Linked DNA regions of Homo sapiens. The protein of the gene in region 1 interacts with the protein of each later gene in a pairwise test. Each region holds a gene or a part of one and is shown in the gene's direction. Other genes may lie near its edges. The genes, in order: MYH7 and MYBPC3.

Region 1 (9,137 bases):
GATCATTCGCTAGGGCTACTCCCTGCCCTCCAGCCCTACTTTAATCTTTATACGATGGAACTCAGGAGGCTGAGACCCTTCTCCAGCCAGTGAGTGGGCCCAATGATGACAGCCAGGGCTGTATCGAGCTCTGCCTTGAGCTCCCTACGTGCATATCTGAAGATGAGGAGGGAGCCAGCTGAGCCTCATGTTTGCAAGCCCACTTTCTGGTGGTGGGTACCCAAACTCTCTAGGCATTCTCAAAGCACCCCCCAGGCTTCCAAAAAGGGAGATGAGAATAAGAAAACAACCAGAAAGTGCAAAAGAAAATGGTGAACAAAACAAGGGCATCTTTTATTACCCCCTCTTCACATATTCTGGAATACCCTACCTTAAAAACAAAACAAACCGTGCTACTTGGCCCTCTTCCCTTGAGTTGTTGTCTAATCTCATTCATTTCACTGCCAAACTCCTCAAATGCATGGTGTACACCCACTGCTTCCACTTCCTGTCCACTCATCTTTTTCCTCATTAACTCCCTGTGGCCTGGCTTTGCCTGTGACACTACACAAGCTGCTTGCTCCAAGATAATCCAAGTTCTTTTCTCTGTCTTCCTGATACACAGGCTTTCTTTGGCATCTGACACTGCTGGCCACCTGCTCTTCTTGAAATGCTTCTTTTGGCTTCTAGGAAACTGCCCATTTCTCACTCTCCTTAGCTGTCTTTGAATCTCCTTCTCTTCTCTGCGGGCTTCTCTTCCTTCTCCCATCGCTGTACTGTGGGTATCTCCCAGGCCTTTCCTCTTCTCTCCAACCTCATGGCTTCTTTCACATCCCCCGAGGTAGTCAGCCCTCTTTATCCAGTTCTGCCCACTGGTCTCATAGCTCCAGCTTCCTTCAGGAAAGCAAAACATCTTCCATTGGTTGCCCCACTCTTACCTCCATTTCCCCCAAACGGAACACTGTCCTTCCTCCTACGTGTCCCTTTTGCCATTATTCCCATCCTTGCCGACATCGTGCAGTCATGCCTCTCCCTTCCTCATTTCTTGCGTCCAGGCTGTTAGCAAGGCATTTTATTCCTTCTTTAGAAAGGCCTTCCAGCCTTGCCTTTCCGCTTCATGCTGCTGGTCTCGCTTTCCTGCCAACGTTGATGGCTACTGTATCCTCCTCTCGGGTCTCCCTGCCTCCAGCCTCTCTTCCGCAAAGCACCCAATAATACCCCTGCTAGGCCCATCAAACTCTGGTTTCAAGACATCACAATGACTGCCATGGTTTAGAACTTTAGTCATTCCTCATTGCTTCCAGGGTATTATCCATTTTGCTGTCCTGGGAAACAGGGCAGAGTCCGTAGAAAGCCCTTTGAGCAAGACAGACCTGGGTCTGAATCCCAGTGCCACGTTTGCTACTTACCTTGAGCAAACATCTTAGCCTCTCTGAACCCCATTGCTCCTCCATAAAACACAATTAAAGTGACACACAATTGTGAACATGTGTGAGATCATGGTGTATAAAACACTGTGCACCTGGCACAGGTGGTCACTCAATATGTATATAGCCCTTTCCCCTCTCCGACATTGGGGCCCTACCTTTTTTTCCTTCCACCTATGTCTCCAGATCCCCCATACGCATAGCCTCATCAGGCATGTGTCCTCCGAGTCCTTATGAACTCACCACACCGTTCCCCTTCCATGCCTTTGGTCACTCTGTGATTCTCATTGCCCAGAACATATCCTGATACTCAGTGCTTCTTAAAGCCCTCCCCTCACCAAGCTCCACTGTCATGTCCCCATCTTGAAAGCTTATTTTATTTTATTTTATTTTGGGACAGAGTCTCACTCTGTCCAGACTGGAGTGCAGTGGTGCGATCTCAGCTCACTTCAACCTCCGATTCCCAGATTCAAGTGATTCTCATGCTTCAGCGATTCTCATGCCTCCTGAGTAGCTGGGACTACAGGAGTGCACCACCATGCCCGGCTAATTTTTGTATTTTTTGTAGAGACGGGGTTTCACTATGTTGGTCAGGCTAGTCTCAAACTCCTGACCTCAAGTTATCTGCCTGCCTCAGCCTCTCAAACTGCTGTGATTACAGGTGTGAGCCACCAACGCCCAGCCTGCTCCTATCTGGTGGCCTGACCAATGTCACCACTTGGCCTGGGTCAACTCCTGCTGGACCTCAGGACACACTGGCTTGTCATGAGGGAAGCTCAGTGGGCAGCAGTCAAGCAGTGATGCCTATCCCAGCTCAGGGCTGGACTGTGGGCCTAGACTGAGTCTAGGACAGTCTGAGAACCTTGGCCTCCTGGCATGACGTTCCCAAGGGCAGTCACAGTCTGGGTAGAGCCGACCACAAGACTGCAGGATTTCTGATCTACTCTGGTCCAGACCATCCTTTGAACCAAGTGGACTTAGTGGGGCTGAAGGAGGTGTGGGGACAAAGAACCTATGGCAGGGCAACCGGCCCTCCTGTCTGCAGCCTGGCTTCCTCAATTTTGTGTTCCTAACCTAAGAGCTGCCATTCAGTGAGGGCCCACAGTGTGTCTGCTGTGTGTAGACTCTGCTTGTGCAATCTCTAATGGCCTGAGTAGCCCTGGAAACAAAATGTGGCTATCCCCATGTTACAGATGACAAAACTGGCTCAAAGCAATTATATGACTGACGTAGACCACACAGCTAGAAAATGGAATCACTGGGTTTCAAAGTGGATTTTTGTGACTGACTCCAAAGCTGACCAGACTGCTCATCCTGTATGCTTCTGAGGCCTCTGGCCCTCCAGACCGGTCACTCCCCACAAAGTCTCCCTTTTGGTGAGTTGTGTCCCTCCAAACACTCCCTGAAGGCAAGATCAACCTGCCCTAACTACCCCAAAGTGAACTAGGCCAGCCCCAAGCCTGTCTCCGGCCCTCCATCTCTCTCTTTGTTCACATCCATCAGAAAGCAGAGACCTAGAGTAGGGAATGAGAGGGGGTGCACAAGTACAAAAGATTTTGAAGCCAGCAGGAAGACAAAAGAATGACAAGAAGGAGCAGCTGTTTGTAAAGGGAAATCTGAGACAGGCAGAAAGCTCAGCTCCCTAATCCTAGGCTCGTGTGGAGCCAGGGCAGGGTCCCCCCAAGGTCAGGGATTCTGGGGGCAGGCGGATGGGAGAGTCAGCCTCCACTCCTGGGTGGCTCCCCTCTGCCCTGTGCACAAACAACGAGTGCCTCATTCCTCCCCTGCACCAAGTGCCCTGCCTCTTCCTGCCCCGTTTCTTCCTTCCCTTTGGGTACCGGAGCTTTTTTCTGATTCCCCTCTCTCCATGCTGACATCGCTTCTAATTCGCCCTGGTGTCTCCCTCCCTCACAATTACTGGGAGTAATTTTAGCAACTTTTCCTCTGAACTACCGCTGGCGTGTTCACAGCAAATGGCCCCTGTTTTGGCTTGACACTTGATCAGGGTGGTGACAGAGTGCAGACAAAGCCGGCACAATGCGGGGAGGGGAGGACGGGGGACAGATCACCTTCCTTTCACTTCAGGCCTTATTTGGTCTACCTTGCCGAAGCGGCCCTCCTTCCAGCCTCTCTTTATTTATAGCATTTTGCTTTGCTCTCCTTTATCTTGCTATCACTTTGTAGCACACTCTGCACAATCCCCACCCACCCCAGCATGGTGGGGCCCCTGGCCCCTCACTCTCCCCACAAGGAATGTGCATGTGTGCAAAGGGTAGGCCTGGATGCCATTTCTACAAACAGTTGACTAAAGCAGTCCAGAGCAGGGATCTTTCTTTGGGTCATTGTTATGTCCTTATTGACCAGAATAATGCCTGGCACATAGTAGGCACTCAATAAATACTTGTTGAATGGAGGAATCTGCAAAGCTGCTCAGTCTTCAGACAGCAGCAAGCAGCAGGAAGAGAATCATGATGTAACCAAGAGCAGGTGCTGGAGGAGCTAGGGAGTGAGTGGGGATCTTTAAGGACAGCAGGCCCTCTGATCTGTCTGAGCTGTGAGGCAAAGCCTAGTTAGGGAGGTGAGTTCTATCTGCAATGAGAGGGGGCATGGGTGGAGAACAGTAACACCCAAACACCAACAGACCAGAGCCTCCCAAACCCGAAAGGAGAGAAACAAAGTGTGATTGATTTCCCAAATGCAGAAAAGACTACCCAAGTCCCCAGCCAAGGAAGGACGCTGGCCTGTGGTGAAGACACTGGCTTTGAAATGGCTCAACTACGTCCCAAGCACCCTTTGTGCATCTTAATTGCCCTGGGAAATCAGGGAGGGGTGGCAGTTTGGAGCTTGGAAAGCTGGAAGGTGGGGACGAAAGGAGTTTTTGCCCCTCATCGCCAATCCTTGAGGTTCCTACAGGGAACCTCAGACAACAGCTGTCTTAGGGGTTTCCTTCCAGCTCCAAGCAGCTGTATTATCTATAGCTTTGAGAGGGTCTGTCTCTGTCAATGGGGCTGATTCCTCAGCACCTGGCAGGGCCTGGGGGGGACTGCCAGAGTCTGTTCTGCCGGGCATGTTAGTAGCACAGACTACTGGGATAACCTCAGCAACTGTATACCTTAGCACTGCAGAGCTGCGGTGTTGTCAGACACAGCCCTTGCAGTTCGTGGTCTACCCCCACTTGCCTGCACCCCCCTTATAGCTGCTCAATGTCCTCAGACTGTACCTTAGTGCCTTGGTTACCAAGCAACCCCCACAGAGGCCTCCTCCTGGATTTTCCCTTCCCTGCTATGCCCACCCCACCTTCAAAATGTACCTGCTGCACCCATCCCCCAGGCCTGCCTCACTCCTTCCAAGCTGACAGCTAATCAGATGGACTAATCCGCATGCGCGGAAGAGCTGTGCTTGGGAAGAAGGGGGAGATTTCACACCAAATCGTGCAGTGGTTGCCTAGACACGGAGCCAGTCAAGCTTGCATGCCCCGTTGCTAGAAGAGCATGGCATCGGTTGTGTTCTGTGCTCGTAGGCTGGGCCCCAGCTCCCTTTCCTCCCCTCCTTTGTGGCTGTTCCTCAGGCCTGCAGAGGGGAAGATTTTTCCTGTCCTGTTACTCTGCCTCACTTGCCAGAACACTAGTCGCCTCCAGCTCTGGATAAAGCTGAGGCTGGGTGGGCCAGACAACAGCTGTCTTAGGGGTCTCCTTCCAGCTCCAAGTAGTTGTATTATCTATAGCTCTGAGAGGGTCTGTCTCTGGGCTCAGGCCTTTAGTACCTGTGGGGCAGAGCCAGGAACGTGAGTCAGGCAAACCGCTCCAAACTAGGACCAATGCAGCTGGGTCCTGCTCTCTGCGCATAGGGGGTCCCCACATCTTTGGAATCCCAGCCCACCTTTCCAGGCTACCCTCCACAGGCCGGGCTCCACTCCCATCTGCTGAGGTTTCCCACCTTGAATCCTGCTGCCCCGATTAGCTGTATAACCTTAAAGAATGCACTGTCCCTCTCCATTAAATGAAGTGCTTGGATGGATTGCTAAAGGCCTGTCTGGCTCGGAGGCTTGGTGACCTCAACACATTGCCTGCTGGTCCAAGGAAATCAGTGCCTGAGCCAGAGTCCCCATCTCTAAGCTCCATGGTTATTGTTCTTGCCACCTGGCTAGGAAATGTCCTTCCAGCTGCCCCAGTCTAGCTGCCTCACCCTGGGGCCATGCCCCCAACTCTGTCCTACCCTTCTCTGCTGCTGACACTCAGCCCCTTCCCAGCTTCCAGTTGGATACAGGACCTGGGCCAGGAGAGCAGGGAGGACACTGTGGAAATGCGGCCAGGCCATCAGGGGCCTCGCAGCAGGGGACTGGAGGGGGAGCAGTGTCCAGGGCCAGAAGTGCCCTGCGGGAGAGCCAGGACATTGGCTGCCTGTGGTCTTGGTGGTCGTGGTCAGTTCCCTCTCCTGCCAGCTGTGGAATGTGAGGCCTGGCCTGGGAGATATTTTTGCTGCACTTTGAGCCACCCCGCCCCCTGGAACTCAGACCCTGCACAGTCCATGCCATAACAATGACGACCACTTCCAATTGTTTCCTAGCTGGAGAGGCGGGGAGGGGAGCACTGTTTGGGAAGGGGGGGAGCCTGGGGGAAATGCTTCTAGTGACAACAGCCCTTTCTAAATCCGGCTAGGGACTGGGTGCCGTTGGGGGTGGGGGTGCCCTGCTGCCCCATATATACAGCCCCTGAGACCAGGTCTGGCTCCACAGCTCTGTCCTGCTCTGTGTCTTTCCCTGCTGCTCTCAGGTAGGAGCGGGAGCTGGAGGCTTTACTCTGGGATAAGGGGGCTCCAGGCTTAGGAAGGGATTCCTCTTGGAATAGCAAGCTTCATGCAGGACTTCATGCAGAGTACCAGGTCCAGTCACTGGGCACACATGTGCAGGTCTAAACATGGGCGTATGTGCCACAGGAGTTCCTAGGGGAAGATATCTGCATCTGAGCATATGGGACCAATATGCATTACAGGGTGTGTGTGTGTGTGTGTGTGTGTGTGTGTGTGTGGACAAGCCTGCATAGTCTGAATGTGAGAAAGGGTATGTACCTCACTGACTGATACAGAAATATCAAGTGGGAGATGTGGGTGTATGATCACGTCTGTGAACGAGGAGGTTCCTTTGCAGGGAGGGAGAAAGAATGGTGGAGAAGGATTCTAGGAAGTGTGTATGCCTTCATGTGATTCTGTGAGGCCTGGAATGTGTAGCTACCCCTGTCCATGCATGCAGAGGTTCTTGTCTATGCCTCCACGAGTCATGACTGTTATAGTATCTGTACCCTCTGCAGAAGGAACTCACAGGCACGGGGGTGTAGGATGTTCCAGGTCTTTGTGTACTGAAGAACACGCAGTGATGTGATCTACTTACGTGGCACACATCCTGAAATGTGCACATTTGCTGTTGAGGCATATATGGCACCCTGGGGTTGGGGTGCGGATTGAGGTATGGGAAGGAAGCCTGTCTTCATGTGAGAGGCATGCCCAAGCAGCAGGCATGAGTGTTCATCAGAGGGCTTGTGGAGGGTGTTTGGCTATGTGATGGGTGTGTCTGTGAGAGGAAGCCCACAGTGTCTTCTCTCTGAGAATGTCCACAAAGTCTGACAACAAAATGGGGACAGGATGGAAAAGAAGTCTCTTTAGAGTCATCAGACTTGCATTCAAGTCTTGGCTCTCCCACTTGTTGTCATGGGCTCTTGGCCAAGCAAGCCATTTAACCTCGATTTCCTCATCTGTCAAATGGGGTGAAGACTGAGTAGGAGAAAGTGCATTGAAGTGCTTTTAGACTGGAAAGTGCCGAACAAATGTGACCATTAGTTGTCTCTCAGATGGCTCAAAGAAAGGTACCACTAGATGGGTACAGGCAGGGGTGGGACCATCTCGCAGGAGTGAAGAGGATTAGGGTTCAGGTTGAGTTGACACCAGGAAGCTGTTAGAACTAGTTCTTGAGGAAAAAGGGAATAGGGTTTGAAAAACAAGAAGGATGGGACCAGAGAAGCTGACCACCCTTTCCACCTTGTTTTGGAAGAGGGTGGATGCTGAAGAACAGAGCCAGGGAGAAGCAGGAAGGTGGGACTGGTCAGGTTGGGCACAGCCTGCCCTGACACAGCCTCTTCCCTCTCTCCAGGTCCCCTGCAGGCCTTGGCCCCTTTCCTCATCTGTAGACACACTTGAGTAGCCCAGGTAAGAAAAGCTGAAGCTAGAGTGTTGAAAATCTAGTAAGACTGGGCATTAGAGCCCCAAAGCCAGCCTATGGAACTCTAGTTTCTGCCATGTGCTGGAGAGAATATCTTGGCTATCAAGAGCTACTTACCTGTGACCAGGGGGTCCAGGGATAGATGAGGGTCAGAGATGGAAATAGTTAGATTTCTGCTCCTACAGGGAGCTCAGAATGCTCTTCCTTCCCCTAGGAGAGCCCCAGCTTGAACAATAGTTAGTTGTTCCTTTTACCCTGGCAGGTTTGCTAGGCTGCTCCTCTGGTTAAGGGGTAACCTCAAAGAGGAAGGGACTCACTGGTAACTCCTCTTGACTCTTGAGCATGGTGCTAGGTTTTGGGGCTCCCACTGAAGGGGAGAGCCCAGGGAGGGAAGGGAAGAATGGGCAGATGGGAGGGCAGCCAGCTTCTGCTCACTCCAGGCACAGCCATGGGAGATTCGGAGATGGCAGTCTTTGGGGCTGCCGCCCCCTACCTGCGCAAGTCAGAGAAGGAGCGGCTAGAAGCGCAGACCAGGCCTTTTGACCTCAAGAAGGATGTCTTCGTGCCTGATGACAAACAGGAGTTTGTCAAGGCCAAGATCGTGTCTCGAGAGGGTGGCAAAGTCACTGCCGAGACCGAGTATGGCAAGGTGGGTGTCAGGCTGATGTGAGAGTCCACCCTGGCCACCTGTACACCTGGGTGGACAGAGAGGGGTACACCCATGCCCCATGCCCATGCAGACCTGAGGATGGTCCCATTCTCCTTCCCTTTGGGGAAGAATCCAGACCCTCCAAAGAGCCCTCTCCTTCCCAATATCCCTTCTGTCTTCCCTGTGAGATCCTGGTTCCTTCTCTCTTGAGCACTATTGCCCTGTCACTCACCAACTCCTAACCCTCTTGAGGAAGGAGGGAAAGCCCAGGCTGACAGGAGGGCTTGGGTGGGGGCTCTTGCAGACAGTGACCGTGAAGGAGGACCAGGTGATGCAGCAGAACCCACCCAAGTTCGACAAAATCGAGGACATGGCCATGCTGACCTTCCTGCATGAGCCCGCGGTGCTCTACAACCTCAAGGATCGCTACGGCTCCTGGATGATCTACGTGAGTGCTGCACCTGGCCCTACGTTGGGATCTCTGTTCTTGCTCCATCCATGTCCACCCCAGGAGCCAAGAGTGTCTTCTGTTTGTGTCTAGGCAGGGTTACACTCTAACCTCGTCCCAACATCCTTGGTTCAATTCCAACACTCTGGGGACTGGCATTACTCAGATTGAGTGCATGCAGAGGTTTTCCTTTCTCTTCTTTCTCTCCTGGGATCTTTCTCTAACTCCCAAAATCACCAGCCCTCCCCCTTCGCAACTGGCAAGTCACTGCTCCTTTTCTATCCCCAGACCTACTCGGGCCTCTTCTGTGTCACCGTCAACCCTTACAAGTGGCTGCCGGTGTACACTCCTGAGGTGGTGGCTGCCTACCGGGGCAAGAAGAGGAGCGAGGCCCCGCCCCACATCTTCTCCATCTCCGACAAC
Region 2 (7,000 bases), on another chromosome or scaffold:
GAGGGCACCATGAGACCCAGAGGCACACACGAGCTGCAAGCAAGGGGTGTGGGGAATCTGGGAGGCAGGTGGAGGGGCCAGGGGCCCACAGGGAGATCCCGGAGGCCTGGGGGCCAGGGAGTGCGATGAGGCTCATGGGAGCACTGTCGGGGACCTGGGAGACTTGGTGGACATGATCACCTCAAGGGGGCACCTAATAAGGTTTGGCCGGGGGTGGGGGGTCGCCCAGGGTGGTCAGGAAGCCTGGAGGACACTGTGAAGCATGGGGGCACCAGCTAGTGGGGTTGTAAAGCCCCTGGATGGGTGAGTATCAGGGCTAAGGGCTCAAGGGACTCTCAGGGATTAACCAGAACAATTCCTCATTATACAGACACGGAAACCAAAGCTTGAGAGGTTAAGTGGCTGCTCCAAGGTCACTTAGACATAGGCCTAGAACCTTAAGCCTTCGTTTTTTGTGTTTTGTTTTTTTCCGCCCTGCCCACCAGAACCTTAAGGCTTAAGTCCCCTTGTTTGTTCACTCCAAGCCTCTGCTTTTCCCAACCTTCCCCAGTCCTGGGCTAGGCAAGGGGGCCTCTAGCAAGAGAGGCCAACATGTTCTGCTGTGCGGGGCTGTGCATTGCACAAAAGCCTGTATTTCACCACAACCATGTGCCAGCAGATGGCAATCATGGGTTTCGAGATAGTCCCCTTTCTCTGTACAAAAACTCTGTATGGGTTAACTAAAGCCTGAGGGTGCGAAGATCGATGAGCATTTGTCACTCCCAGCCTCCTTTAAATATATATATATATATATAATTTGAGACAGGGTCTCGCTCTGTCGCTCAGGCTGGAGTGCAGTGGCTCAATCTCGGCTCACTGCAACCTCCACCTCCTGGGTTCAAGCGATTCTCCCACCTCAGCCTCCCGAGTAGCTGAAACTAGAGGTGTGCACCACCATACTTGGCTAATTTTCGTTATTTTTAGTAGAGACGGAATTTCACCACGTTGGCCAGGCTGGTCTGGAGCTCCTGGTCTTATGTGATCCGCCCGCCTCAGCCTCCCAAAGTGGGGATTACAGGCCTGAGCCACCGCGCCCGGCCACTCCCAGTCTCCTTTAAGGGTGCGGAGCCTTGTCTCCCGGCCCCTGGTGTCCCCTGACGCCCCGTCCCTCCATGCACACAGGTCTATCTGTTCGAGCTGCACATCACCGATGCCCAGCCTGCCTTCACTGGCAGCTACCGCTGTGAGGTGTCCACCAAGGACAAATTTGACTGCTCCAACTTCAATCTCACTGTCCACGGTGAGGGGGCCCTGGTGTCTGTCCTGGGCTCGGGCTCCCCATGGGTCCTGGTCTCCTACCTCCTTTTCCCAACACTAAGGAGGATGCCTCGTCCCATCCAGACATGAGTGCTGGCCACGTGCCCAGTGCTGCACACACAGGGTGTGAGAGAAACCCCAAGGCTTGCAGGGTAGGCGTGGGGGCTTAGGGCTGAGTCCGGGTCTCATCTGGGTGGGACTCTGTTTTATCATCTTGGTGTCACGGCTCCTGGCCCATGGCCTGGCACTGTCTGAATGTTTGGGCGATGGGTGAAGGTGAGTTGAGAGATGGGTGGGAATTGGGGACAATAAACCGTCCCACCTGCCTGGTACCTTGACCCTGGGAAAGGCTGGGAAGGTGAGATCCTGGGGCAGATGCCCAGCCTCATGGGGTCATGAATGGGCAAGTCTGTGAATACTCAGAGGCCGCCCCCAGGGCAGGGCTTCTCAAACGGCCCCCTCTGAAGCCCCTTCCCCCATCTCTCCACCCTTTGAACCCAGAGGCCATGGGCACCGGAGACCTGGACCTCCTATCAGCCTTCCGCCGCACGTGAGTGGCCATCCTCAGGGCCTGGGGGAGGCCAGTGCTGGAGTCTGAGGCCCTTCAGGGTCTCGACTGGGGGTCAGGGCTGGGGATGATTTGCGGGGCGGAGCTGAAGTCAGTGGGGGCTGCAGGGGAGAGCAAGCTTCCCAGGCAGGTGAGGATACTGAGTCTAACCCCCACAGGAGCCTGGCTGGAGGTGGTCGGCGGATCAGGTACCCCTGCCCCAGGCCCTACCTGCACCATCCGCAGACCCCCAGGGGTCTGAGACGGGTGGGAGCCCAATCTGGCTAGTGTCCCTTTCTCCCTCCCCACTCCACTCCCATCCTGCTCCTAATCCCTTTCCAGTCCCTCACTGCAGCCTCACTGGGGGTCCCTCTCCATAGTGATAGCCATGAGGACACTGGGATTCTGGACTTCAGCTCACTGCTGAAAAAGAGGTGAGTCCTGGGTGGCAGTTCCTGGGGCAGCTGGTGAGGCCTGGCTCCAAATCCCAGCACTGTGGTTTGCCAGCTGTGTGACCCTGAGCACAACACTGCACCTCTCTGAGTTGGTTTCCTTGTCTGTCGAGGGGATGATCCCAGTGTGGAAGGAGTTAAAGGGCTCTGCAGACATTATGTCCCGTCAACAGTCATCCTCACAGTGTCCCCCACGGCCACTCCACACTTGAGGCTGCAAAAGCTCCCTCCGTAAACTCCGGGGACCCAGAAGGAACAGAGAGAGGGTCCCCAGAGCTGCAGGGTCTACCAGGTCGGCCCAACTGACTTATGTTCTCTCTGCCCTCTCTCTCCCTCTCCCCCGGCCCCTCCATTATGGCTGCTGCTGCTGTGGCCCAGAGAGTAAGAATCGGGGTCTGGGTGTTTGGGGGCGGCAGGGCGCTGGTGGGTGCAGAGGGGATTCCCGTCCCCTCTCTGAGAGGCTGTGGTGAGAGACTCAGAGCAGGGTGCGGCTCCCCACGGACAGGGGTGAGTCTCTGTGCCTTGGGCTTCTCCTGCCACCCACCTATCTGTCAGAGCTTAGGAGGGATAAGAAAAAGTAATGCACACAGGAGGTCCTGCCAGAGCCTCCGGAGCAGCATGGGTGCCCCACAACACAGGGAGTGCAAGTGCGGAAAATAGGGAGGAAGTAAAGGCCCATGGGTGGGGTCCAGGTCTTTGAGGGAAGGTGGCCATACCTCTCATGTGCCACCTACCCTTTCTCCCACCCCCACCCCTGGAGCAGCAGTTTCCGGACCCCGAGGTGAGTGCCCAACATAGCACAGCACCCTCATCACCCCTAATTCTGCCAGGAGCCCCTCCAGATCCCCAGCCCCTCTTCAGCTCCCTTGGCCCCCAGTCCTGCCTGGCCTGGGACCCAGAGCAGCTCCAGCTGCCCCACCAGAAGGGAAGGGGCAGAGGGACAGGGGTGGCTACAGCTCCTTGGTCCTGGGCCCAGGAAGCCCCGCCCAGGGGGCTGCAGTCTTGCCCCCGGCCACAGCCTAGACTGCGGGACACAGGGACTCGAAGCTGGAGGCACCAGCAGAGGAGGACGTGTGGGAGATCCTACGGCAGGCACCCCCATCTGAGTACGAGCGCATCGCCTTCCAGTACGGCGTCACTGACCTGCGCGGCATGCTAAAGAGGCTCAAGGGCATGAGGCGCGATGAGAAGAAGAGCACAGGTTAGCCCTTCCTCAGAGGGGAGAGGAGAGGGCACAGGCTAGCCCTTCCCTACACAGGAGAGGAGAGGGCATAGGTTAGCCCTTCCCCACAGGGGAGAGGAGAGGGCACAGGTTAGCCCCCCACCTCGTCCACATACATGGAAAGAGCGGAGTCCGGCTTAGCACAGAGACTCACAGGAAAGAAGAGCCCAGGTTAACCCCTCCTTGTGTAGAAAAAGCCAAGAATGCCCAGGTTAGCCCCTTACCACAGAGATAGAAGAGAAGAGCAAAAGTTAGGCCAGGACAGCCACAAGGAAAAGGACAGAGCTCAGGTTAACCCTCCTCACCAAGGAAAAATCAGGCTACACTTTCTTTCTCTACCCTCTTCTGAAAAGAAATGAAGCCCGGTTAACCCTCTCCACACCCAAAAGAAAAGGGAAGAGGCCCGCTAAGCCTGGAGAGCCACACACAGGCAAAGAAAAGAGCCTGGCTAATCTTTCTCTCAGGCAAACAAAGCAGGAGGGCTTGGGTTAACTACCCTCACCCCCAGGCAGATGGAAAGAGGAGAGCCCAGGAATAGCCCTTCTCCACTGAGGGGTTGACAAGGGCGGGTGTGAGCCGGGAAAGCAGGGGTCTCACATGCCTTCTCCCCACCATGTCTGGGTCTAGCACAGGGCCTGGCACACACCTCGAGCGCTCTATAAACACCGACTGAATGGAGGGGTCAGCTTCCATGCAGGATATGGGAGACAAGCCCCTCCCAAAGCACACACACAAAACACACACGATCATGGGGACGGGGAGAGGAGCTGGTTAGTCCCTCCCTGCTGACCTCCCCCAGGCCCCTTATCCCTCTGCCCTGCCTCCCTGTTGTCTCAGCCTCACTGGGTTTCCCATCACCCCATCGCTAGGTGGCCTGGCCCTTACCGGCACCGTGGCCCCATTTAAGCCAGGGATCCCCTGAATGCCACCAATGTTCCTCTGGGTTAACTCCTGAACTGCTGAGCCCAGAGGGCACCAAGCAAAGGACTGTAGGTGCCCAAGGAGGAAAAGATGGAGGCTGGCAAGGCAGATGGGGACCTCCGAGGGTAGGGGTGTCTTCCAGGAATAGCAACAACAGTAAAAAGAGCAAATTGCTGGCCAGGTGCAGTGGCTCACGCCTGTAATCCCAGCACTTTGGGAGGCCGAGGCAGGTGGATCACCTGAGGTTAGGCGTTCAAGACCAGCCTGACCAACATGGTGAAACCCCGTCTCTACTAAAAATACAAAATTACCTGGGCATGGTGGCAGGCGCCTGTAATCCCAGCTACTCCGGAGGCTGAGGCAGGAGAATCACTTGAACCCGGGAGGCAGAGGTTGCAGTGAGTCAGGATTGTGCCATTGCACTCCAACCTGGGTGACAGAATGAGACTCCATCTCAAAAAAAGTGAGTGAGTTCCTTCCTAAGCCAGCCACTAGGTGCTTTATGTAATTATCTCATTTAATTCTCGAAACAACACTATGATGGAAGGACTATTACCATTTCCATGTTACTGAGGAAACCGAGGCACAGAGGGTTTAAGGAACTAGCGCAAGGTCACAGAGCACCCAGCAGTAGATCTCTGCCCCTCCGCAGCTGACTCCAGGCCCAGCCAGAGTATTTGAGGACTCAGGGGTCCTTCTCTGCTCGGTGGATGGAGCCCCCACTTCCTCCCTGGGCTCAGCAGCAGCAACATGGGCTTTTACAAACACGGCCGCAAGAGGAGGCATTGTTGTGGAGCAGGGCTGGGCTCAAGACCCAGCTCTGCCACACACCTGCTGGGCTGGTGGCATTGGGCCAGTCGCCTCTCTGAGCCCTATTTCCCCCACTGCAGCAGCATGGGGACCACCGCACTGGCCCTGGGGGCTGAGATGGGAGTGAGAGTGCTGGGCACAGAGGGCTGCTAGGTGGGAGCGCCTGGGAAGAGTACACAACTCAGGGGTTGCTGAGAGAAGAGAAGGCACAGCTGTCCCAGCCCCAGTTCTCCTGACAAGCTTCTGTCTTTCTGGAAGCCCCTAACCCAATCCCTGAGCTGAGCAGGTGGAGAGGACCCCAAGGAAGACAGAAGGACAAGGTCAGACAGACAGAGACAAGGAGGTGGGTTGACACATAGACACAGATAAAGAAATGAAGACACCATGCCTGTAATCCCAGCACTTTGGGAGGCTGAGGCGGGCGCATCACCTGAGGTCAGGATTTCAAGACCAGCCCGGCCAACATGGTAAAACCCCGTCTCTACTAAAAATACAAAAATTAGCTGGGCGTGGTGGCACATGCCTGTAATCCCAGCTACTCGGGAGGCCGAGGCAGGAGAATCACTTGAACCTGGGAGGCAGAGGTTGCAGTGAGCCAAGATGGCGCCATTGCACTCCAGCCTGGCCAACAGAGCAAGACTCTGTCCAAAAAACAAACAAACAGACAAACAAACAAAACAAAAAGAAATAGAGACACAGAGAAGTGGAAGCGGGGCGGCACAGAGGGGATTGGAGGGGGGGACCTGGGCCCCAGCCACAGCCACAGTAGCTTGGCCTGGGGGAGCAGGGTGCGGGCGGTGGGGTGGCCGGGGCTGAGGGGTGGTGCTCAGCCTTTCAGAAGAAGCTGGAGCCGGCCTACCAGGTGAGCAAAGGCCACAAGATCCGGCTGACCGTGGAACTGGCTGACCATGACGCTGAGGTCAAATGGCTCAAGAATGGCCAGGAGATCCAGATGAGCGGCAGGTGCAGCCTGGGGTGGGGAGGGGGGCTCGGGTGGAGGTGGGGACCCCCATAGCCTTGCCTCCTGCCCCTCTCCACATGCGTATCTCTGACTCGGTGTGGCTCTCAGCCCCATCTCTCTGGGCCTAATTTCCCATCCTTTTGCTCCTGCCGGTCCCTCTCTCTCTCTCCTTTTGTCTCGGGCTCACTTCCTCCCGTCGGGAACACTTCAACGGCCCCTTCTGTTCTACAGCAAGTAAGTTCCCCTCTGGATGGCTTGGGGTGGGGGGCACAGGGATTATCATGGGGCGCACTGGGCCCGGAGGGGTGTCCGCAGCTTTCCTGCCACTTCCCTGCGGCCCCCACCCAGGTACATCTTTGAGTCCATCGGTGCCAAGCGTACCCTGACCATCAGCCAGTGCTCATTGGCGGACGACGCAGCCTACCAGTGCGTGGTGGGTGGCGAGAAGTGTAGCACGGAGCTCTTTGTGAAAGGTGGGCCTGGGACCTGAGGATGTGGGAACCTGGGGAGGAGATGGCCTCAGGGGAGCCAACCCTCATGCTCACCCTGCCTGGACAGAGCCCCCTGTGCTCATCACGCGCCCCTTGGAGGACCAGCTGGTGATGGTGGGGCAGCGGGTGGAGTTTGAGTGTGAAGTATCGGAGGAGGGGGCGCAAGTCAAATGGTGAGTTCCAGAAGCACGGGGCATGGGTGTTGGGGGCATCTGCCCAGAAGAGGCCACAGCACTTGCCACCCACCCACCCGGCTAGGCTGAAGGACGGGGTGGAGCTGACCCGGGAGGAGACCTTCAA

The links.
Region 2: the proteins of MYH7 (region 1) and MYBPC3 interact in a two-hybrid assay, tested with the Homo sapiens proteins (2 studies listed by IntAct).

The regions. Positions count from the first base shown.
Region 1 is NC_000014.9:23,432,661-23,441,797, reverse strand, and holds the start of MYH7 (myosin-7), read left to right. Parts: upstream 1-6,137; 5' UTR 6,138-6,178; intron 6,179-7,548; 5' UTR 7,549-7,604; intron 7,605-8,057; 5' UTR 8,058-8,065; coding exon 8,066-8,266; intron 8,267-8,570; coding exon 8,571-8,714; intron 8,715-9,002; coding exon 9,003-9,137. UniProt on the Homo sapiens protein: Myosins are actin-based motor molecules with ATPase activity essential for muscle contraction. Forms regular bipolar thick filaments that, together with actin thin filaments, constitute the fundamental contractile unit of skeletal and cardiac muscle.
Region 2 is NC_000011.10:47,342,703-47,349,702, reverse strand, and holds part of MYBPC3 (myosin-binding protein C, cardiac-type), read left to right. Parts: intron 1-1,161; coding exon 1,162-1,279; intron 1,280-1,797; coding exon 1,798-1,846; intron 1,847-2,022; coding exon 2,023-2,052; intron 2,053-2,223; coding exon 2,224-2,277; intron 2,278-2,673; coding exon 2,674-2,676; intron 2,677-3,058; coding exon 3,059-3,076; intron 3,077-3,332; coding exon 3,333-3,496; intron 3,497-6,078; coding exon 6,079-6,211; intron 6,212-6,440; coding exon 6,441-6,443; intron 6,444-6,557; coding exon 6,558-6,682; intron 6,683-6,767; coding exon 6,768-6,873; intron 6,874-6,958; coding exon 6,959-7,000. UniProt on the Homo sapiens protein: Thick filament-associated protein located in the crossbridge region of vertebrate striated muscle a bands. In vitro it binds MHC, F-actin and native thin filaments, and modifies the activity of actin-activated myosin ATPase.